Homo sapiens: one gene and its partner. The protein of the gene in region 1 interacts with the protein of each later gene in a pairwise test. Each region holds a gene or a part of one and is shown on either strand. Other genes may lie near its edges.

Region 1 (3,500 bases):
CATTTTTGTAGGCACTGTTGTATGGTCAGTGCCTTTCCTAGATTGTCCATCTTTAGACACAGCCAACCACTCTCTATTCTGGGCTCCCTCTGTACCAGGCCAAGTGGATTTAAAATACTTCTGTCTATAACTTTCATCTCTGCTGACTGTAAGCTCCTTAGGGAGTAGGATCATGTTTTATTTATCTTTACTTCAGCAGCACCTAGCACAGTGTTTGGCACAAAATGGTTGCTTGTTAAATGAATAAACTTTTTTTTTTTTTTTTTTTTTTTTTTTTTTTTGAGACGGAGTCTCGCTCTGTCGCCCAGGCTGGAGTGCAGTGGCGCGATCTCAGCTCACTGCAAGCTCCGCCTCCCGGGTTCACGCCATTCTCCTGCCTCAGCCTCCCGAGTAGCTGGGACTACAGGCGCCCGCCACCACGCCCGGCTAATTTTTTGTATTTTTAGTAGAGACGGGGTTTCACCGTGTTAGCCAGGATGGTCTCGATCTCCTGACCTCGTGATCCGCCTGCCTCGGCCTCCCAAAGTGCTGGGATTACAGGCGTGAGCCACCGCGCCCGGCCTAAATGAATAAACTTTTAACAAACTTAAAACATGTTAGAGCCACCAGGACCCATTTCCCTATAACTGGATAAGGGAAATTAAGATAGAGGCTATTTTGTTATAGAATATTGGGTTATTTTGTTGACCCTGAACCACAGAAGCAAAATAATGTTCTAGTCTAGACCTGATAACAAAACTCAAAAAAAATTTTAAGCAACCTCTTAAGTGTCTTTTTATTCCTTCCTTTCCCAGTACAACTCTGTAAATGCCTGAGAAATAGTGGCAGAAGACAGGATAAATCTGCTTATGGCTTTTTGCCTTAGGGTAATTCCCTCCTTCCATGATTTGTGTTATTCTTTGTTGTTCCTCATAGACCAATATCAAACTCTGACCACGCAGGCCAGTCATAACAATCCCATATAATCTAGTTCCTTGTACTTGACAGAGGAAACAGATGCCGCATAATGTGGTGGTGAAAAGTACAGTCTTTGGATTCATACTGCCTAAGTTAAAACTCTGCTGCTTACAAGTTGTGTAATATTGGACAAGTCACTTAACTTCACTGTGCTTCAGCTTCCTCCTCTTAAATATGGGAATATTAGTATACCTACCTTACTAGAATAACATGACATATGATAAATAGTATATATTGGTTGCTGCTAATGTTACTGGGATTATGATGATCATTATGCCATTATTTACTTATATGTTCATCTAAGGTCTACTCTAGAGGTATGTCTGTTAACTAGAGGTATTCTGACTCAAATTGCTGGAAGAGACAGAGGACAGCATTATATAGATAATTTTCTTTGCAAAACCATCTTTCTGTAAATGTTAGCAATATGCCTTATTCTGAGAATTCCTTCAATTAATAGCAGTCAAAACTGCTCTTAATCTTAACAACTTGTGAGAGTCAGACTATTCTCTTCATTTTATATGAAAACTGAGGCTTCTAAACATTAAGTAATTTGGCCTTACATCCACAGTTTTAAAATGATTGGGAACCATTTCTATATGTCTTCTACCTCCTACTACTGGTTGTTTTTGTTGTTTGTTTGCCATAATTACTGCTCTCAAAGTAAATGAAATTAAGGCAGAAAGAATGGTAAGGGGAACACAGAGCTAGCCACAGAATAGAAAAACAAAGACAGATTTTTCACAATTGCTCTTTATTTTTTCATATGGCTTCAAGTTACTGTCTGATGTCCTTTAATTTCAATCTGAGAGATTCTCTTTAGCATTTCTTGTAGGGCAGGTCTACTAGTAAATTCTGTAGCTTTTGTTTATCTGAGAATTTCTTTAGGAATAGTTTTGTCAGATATAGAATTCTTGATCGACATTCTTATTTTCTGGTCTCCATGGTTTTTTATAAGAAATCAGCTAGTAATTTTATTAAGGCTCTCTTGTATGTGATGAGTTGTTTCTCTCTTGTTGTTTTCATTGTCTTTGGCTTTTGACAGTTTGACTATAACACGTCTCAGTGTGGGTCTCTTTAGAGTTCATTGAGCTTCTTGGATATGTAGATTCACCTCTTTCATCAAATTTGGGAGTTTTTCAACCATTATTTCTTCAAACATTCTTTCTGATCCTATTGCACTTCCCCTCTTGAGACTCCTGTAATGCATATGTTAGTTCACTTGATGATGTCCCACAGGTCCCTTGGACTCTGTTTACTTTTCTTCATTTTTCTTTCTGTTCCTCATACTGGATGATTGATTGATTGATTGATTGATTTAGACTGAACTCAAACCAAGACACACACTGGATAATTTAAATTATACTATCTTTAAATTTGCTGACTCTTCTTTGTACTCAAATTCATTAAGCCCCTCTAAAGATTTTTCATTTTAGTTATTGTACTTTTCAGTTCCTGAGTTTCTATTTGATGGGCTTTTAATAATTCTGCCTCATTATTGGTACTCTTAATTTTGTTCATACATTTTTTTCCTGGTTTCCTTTAGTTCTTTGAACATACATAAGACAGTTGGCTTAAAGTCTTTGTCACCCATGCTATATCATGTAGCCTGTTGCTCCTAGTCTACAAACCTGTATAGCATGTTATTGTGCTGAATACTGTAGACATTGTAACATAATGGTAAATATTTTTGTATCTAAACATAGAGACATAAAAATACATAAAAAATGGTATACCTGTATAAGGTACTTACCCTGAATGGAGCTTGCAGGATGGGGAAGTTGCTCTGGGTGAGTCAGTGAGTGAGTGGTGAGTGAATGTGAAGGTCTAGGATGTTACTGTACTCTACTGTAGATTTTATAAACACTGTACGATTAGGCTATACTACTTTTTTTTTTTTTGAGACGGAGTCTTCCTCTGTTGCCCAGGCTGGAGTGCAGTTGTGTGATCTTGGCTCACTGCAACCTCCGCCTCCCAGGTTTAAGCGATTCTCCCACCTCAGCCTCCCAAGTAGCTGGGATTATAGGCATGTGCCACCACGCCCGCCTAATTTTTGTATTTTTGGTAGAGATGGGGTTTCTCCATGTTGGCCAGGCTGGTCTCGAACTACTGACCTCAGGTGATCCGCCCACCTTGGCCTTCCAAAGTACTCGGATTAAGACATGAGCCACTGTGCCTGGCCTATACTACATTTAAAAAAATTTTTTTTTCTTCAGTAATCAGTTCACCTTAGCTTACTGTAACTTGTATAAACTTTAAAATTTTTAACTTTTTGTCTCTATTGTAATAACACTTAAAACACAAACACTTTGTACAGCTATAGAGAAATATTTTCTTTATATCCTTATTCTATAAGCTTTTCCCTACTTTTAAATTGTTTTATTACTTTTAAAACTTTTTTGTTAAAAACTAAGACACAAACACATATATATTAGCTTAGACCTGCACAGAGTCAGGATCATCAATATCACTTTTATAAGTAGCAGTACCCTCTAAAATAATAATAAAAAGTATAGTAAATACATAAACCAGTACCAGAGTTT
Region 2 (3,500 bases), on another chromosome or scaffold:
CACTTCAAAATGTAGAAGAAAAGCTGCCTAAAGCCTAGAATCAGAGAGACTGTGATGGGGAAGGGAACTGTGGGAGGGAGAAAAGGGGTATGTGGGGCCAGAATGCTAAGAGCAGGGAGGCATCTTCAGAATGGGGAAGGCTGAAAGCCAGTTGTACAATCTGGATGGTCATAGATGGGGTTGGGGCAGGGGAAGGGAAAGCTTTCCTCCCTGACAAGGAGAACTCTAGATGTTGTCCACAACCCTTTCCTGAGCGCCCACCCTTGTGCACGGTGACATTCTGGATGTTTTCCAAGACATTCTCCACCAGTAGAGAGAGGCGGCATATCTTTGCAGACCAGAGCCATAGTTGATGGACTAATAAAATCATATACCACTCTAATGACCAAAGACTTGCCTGATGCAATGGCTTAGTAAGTCCCTAACATGGGCCTAATATGTTTTAGGTAGGGTGGCCATGTAACGCATCTTTCCATTAAGGACACGTATGCAGGTGAAAGGGAGACCTATTAATCATTATGCCAGGAAAACAGATGTGAACTGGAACTGTCCCAGGCACAGCAGGAGGTTTGATCACCCTTAGTCTATGATCCTTTCCCTTTCTCATCTCATCTCATCCTCACAATACGTCAGGAGGTGAATATCATGAGCCATATTCTGCAGATGTGGAAAAGGAGCCCCAGGTCACATCGCATGTCAGTGGCAAAGTGGACACTGGACACGGGGCTATTGTCACCTAATTAATGTCTTTCCCACTCTACCTTCCCAAAGGAGGTCAGGAGATGCACTGCGATTCAGCCATGGCTGTGTGTCTACGTCACCTGCCCCTCCACGCCCCCCAGAATTACTGACTTCAAATCTCTTGGAGTAGAATCAAAACATTGACTTTTACTCAGCTTCTCCTGGGCACTTTGATGGAGAATCAGGATTGGGAAAACTGGTTTAGACAATTACTCCATGGCTAATGGGCCCATCATGGAAACGAGATGTTTATGGATGTTCTTAACCCTTTGATGTTGATATCAAGGAAAATAATCATCTTCCTCCAACTCAAAGTCGGCATGTTTTGGGGACTACCATCAGAGGCAGACCCCATGGCTGACAAATCTGGGCCAGGAAGTCTCTGGGGGTCTCATAAGGCATCGGATTAGGTGACAGAAGGAGGCTGCTTGAAATCCCTTTGCCTGAAGGTCTTTAGGAACAGGAGAGAGACACCTGTCTGAGCTGGTGTAGGTGGAAGTGGGGGCGAGAGTGCTGTCAGTCATACACTGACAGTCTCCACACATAACCAGGAACTATCTTTTGACTATTTAGAGGTAGCTGGGAGAGATGGTTGTTGGGAGCAGGTGGACTTTGTCTGCAGACAGCAGTATGCCCTGAAGGCCAGAAAGGCTGGATGTGTTCAGGAACCCAGGCAGGGTCTGAAAGGGATAGACTGCACATTCATGATCCTCCTTCCCTTTCCAAATGTGCAGGCTGCACTTTCTCCCCATGACCTTGAGTTTGCATCGATTTCCCAAATGCACACACGGAGGGCTACTTGAGTCTCTCTCCAAACCACTGACATTTGATCAAGCCAGTTCATTGTGAAGGGCAGAGAAAGACAGACTCTTCAGTGCTGTTAAAATTGGCCTTGGGGTTTTGAAAGCTCTTAGAGGTCACCTGGTCTGAGTCAGTGCATGATCAAGCCCCAGTTGGCGCTGTGTGAACACCTGCCAGGGTGGACCTCAGGTGGCTCATATGATTGTGGGACAGCTCTAATTCTTGGTAAATTAAAAATCTGCCTTCTAATCATGCCTAGTGACTAGCCTTTGTTCTGCCCCCAAAGCCATGATAAGGCCACATGTAAGTCTTTCCATGTGACAGCTTTTGAAGTGTTTTGAAGACCCTTATCTTATCCCCAAGTCTTCTCATCTTTATCCTTAGTCCTAAAAAAAAAAAAAAAAGAAATCCTGGTAGAGGAATGCAACAGCCCAAACCAAGAGGAACTTCCTGTAATAAGATGGGTTCTTCTGCAGTCTGTAGATTCCAAAGGCCCCCAGGGTAACTGGAGTACATTGAACTCCAGTACGAGTACATTGAAGCACTACAGACATTTGCTCTTTGGGTTCTTACCATCATTCATTTATTCAATACTCGTAGATCTACCAAGCACAGAGGCAGGCACCGAGGAAGCAAGGCTGGCCCGGTCCCTGCCCTCATGGAGCTTGCAGTCCATGGAGGATGCAGACAAACGGGGATGGGGGGAAGGCATTTATCTTGTGTGACAGGCACCGCAATAACAGGAGCTCAGGGTGCCTTGGGAGCTCTCAGTCCAGGTTTTGCGGGTCAGGCAAGGCTTCCCAGAGGAAGGATGAGGAAGAGAGAGGCTGGAAAGGAGGGAGAGGAAGGATTTCAGAGACAGCTGCTGGCAAGGACGGTGGCCTCTGAGGCAGAACTCCTCACATTTAACTGGAGAATATATCGTGTGCTGAGAGGGGAGGGAAGAGACTCAATGGCAGATATGGGGGAGGCGCAAGTACCACTATGGCTTTGGGTCATACAGGATGAATGAGCTGTGGGCCAGCATTAGGGCTGTGGAACAAGAACCATCCCTCATTTCTTTCTGATCTGGTTAGGAAGATACACCTGAAACCCTACAGCAGGTCTGGGCCAAGGTGCTAGGTTTAGTTCCCCGTGCACAGAGAAGCAGGCAGGGAAAGCTCTTTTTTTTTTTTTTTTTTTTTGAGACAGGGTCTCACTCACTGGTTTGCACCCAGGCTAGAGTGCAGTGGTATAGTCACAGCTCACTGCAACCTTGAACTCCCAGGCTCAATGCATCCTCCTGCTTCAGCCTCCTGAGTAGCTGGGACCACAGATGTGTGCTACCACACTCGCCTAGTTTTCTCATTATGTTGCCCAGGCTGGTCTTGAACTCCTGGGCTCAACCAGTCCTCCTGCCTCAGCTTCCTGAGTAGCTGAGGTTACAGCTATGAGCCACTATGTGTGCCCAGCAGGAAAAGCTAGTTGTAAGATTGAGGACCAAGTACCTGCCATATCAGTGGATCTGGGGAAACTGGTTTAGCTGTGGAGTTTGCATGAATGATGTCATTTAAGGGGAGATAGGAGGGCCTACTCTACAAATCTCTTCCCCATACTGTCTGAAGATCTTCATTCTGTTGAACTAATTAAAAACAGCAGCATGTTCAGATGCATGTATGTCCATGCATTTAGTGGGTGACAGGGTATTCCTCATCCATCCCTTGCTATGAACTTGTAGTATCGGGTTGTTTGTCTTCTGATCCCCAGCACTGAGGAGATGGGGATGTGATGGGAGGAGAGGCCACTGGGACTGAGAGGGAGTTCTGATGGGGCTTGGAGGAAGGCTATAAGGACTATGCACCTGACCCAACAAGAGTACTGGGGTGGGTGGTTTCAGTGAGTCCCAGGGGAAGCCCAGCAACTTCTATGCAGGGTCCCAGCCTCATCCCTTTGGAGACTTCGTCTCTGACTCTTTCTTC

The links. Proteins that work in one complex are often made in the same cells at the same time.
Region 2: the proteins of ZNF451 (region 1) and PRMT8 interact in a two-hybrid assay, tested with the Homo sapiens proteins (one large-scale study listed by BioGRID and IntAct).

Annotation. Positions count from the first base shown.
Region 1 is NC_000006.12:57,163,188-57,166,687, forward strand, and holds part of ZNF451 (E3 SUMO-protein ligase ZNF451), read left to right. Parts: intron 1-3,500. UniProt on the Homo sapiens protein: E3 SUMO-protein ligase; has a preference for SUMO2 and SUMO3 and facilitates UBE2I/UBC9-mediated sumoylation of target proteins. Plays a role in protein SUMO2 modification in response to stress caused by DNA damage and by proteasome inhibitors (in vitro).
Region 2 is NC_000012.12:3,588,703-3,592,202, forward strand, and holds part of PRMT8 (protein arginine N-methyltransferase 8), read left to right. Parts: intron 1-3,500. UniProt on the Homo sapiens protein: S-adenosyl-L-methionine-dependent and membrane-associated arginine methyltransferase that can both catalyze the formation of omega-N monomethylarginine (MMA) and asymmetrical dimethylarginine (aDMA) in proteins such as NIFK, myelin basic protein, histone H4, H2A and H2A/H2B dimer.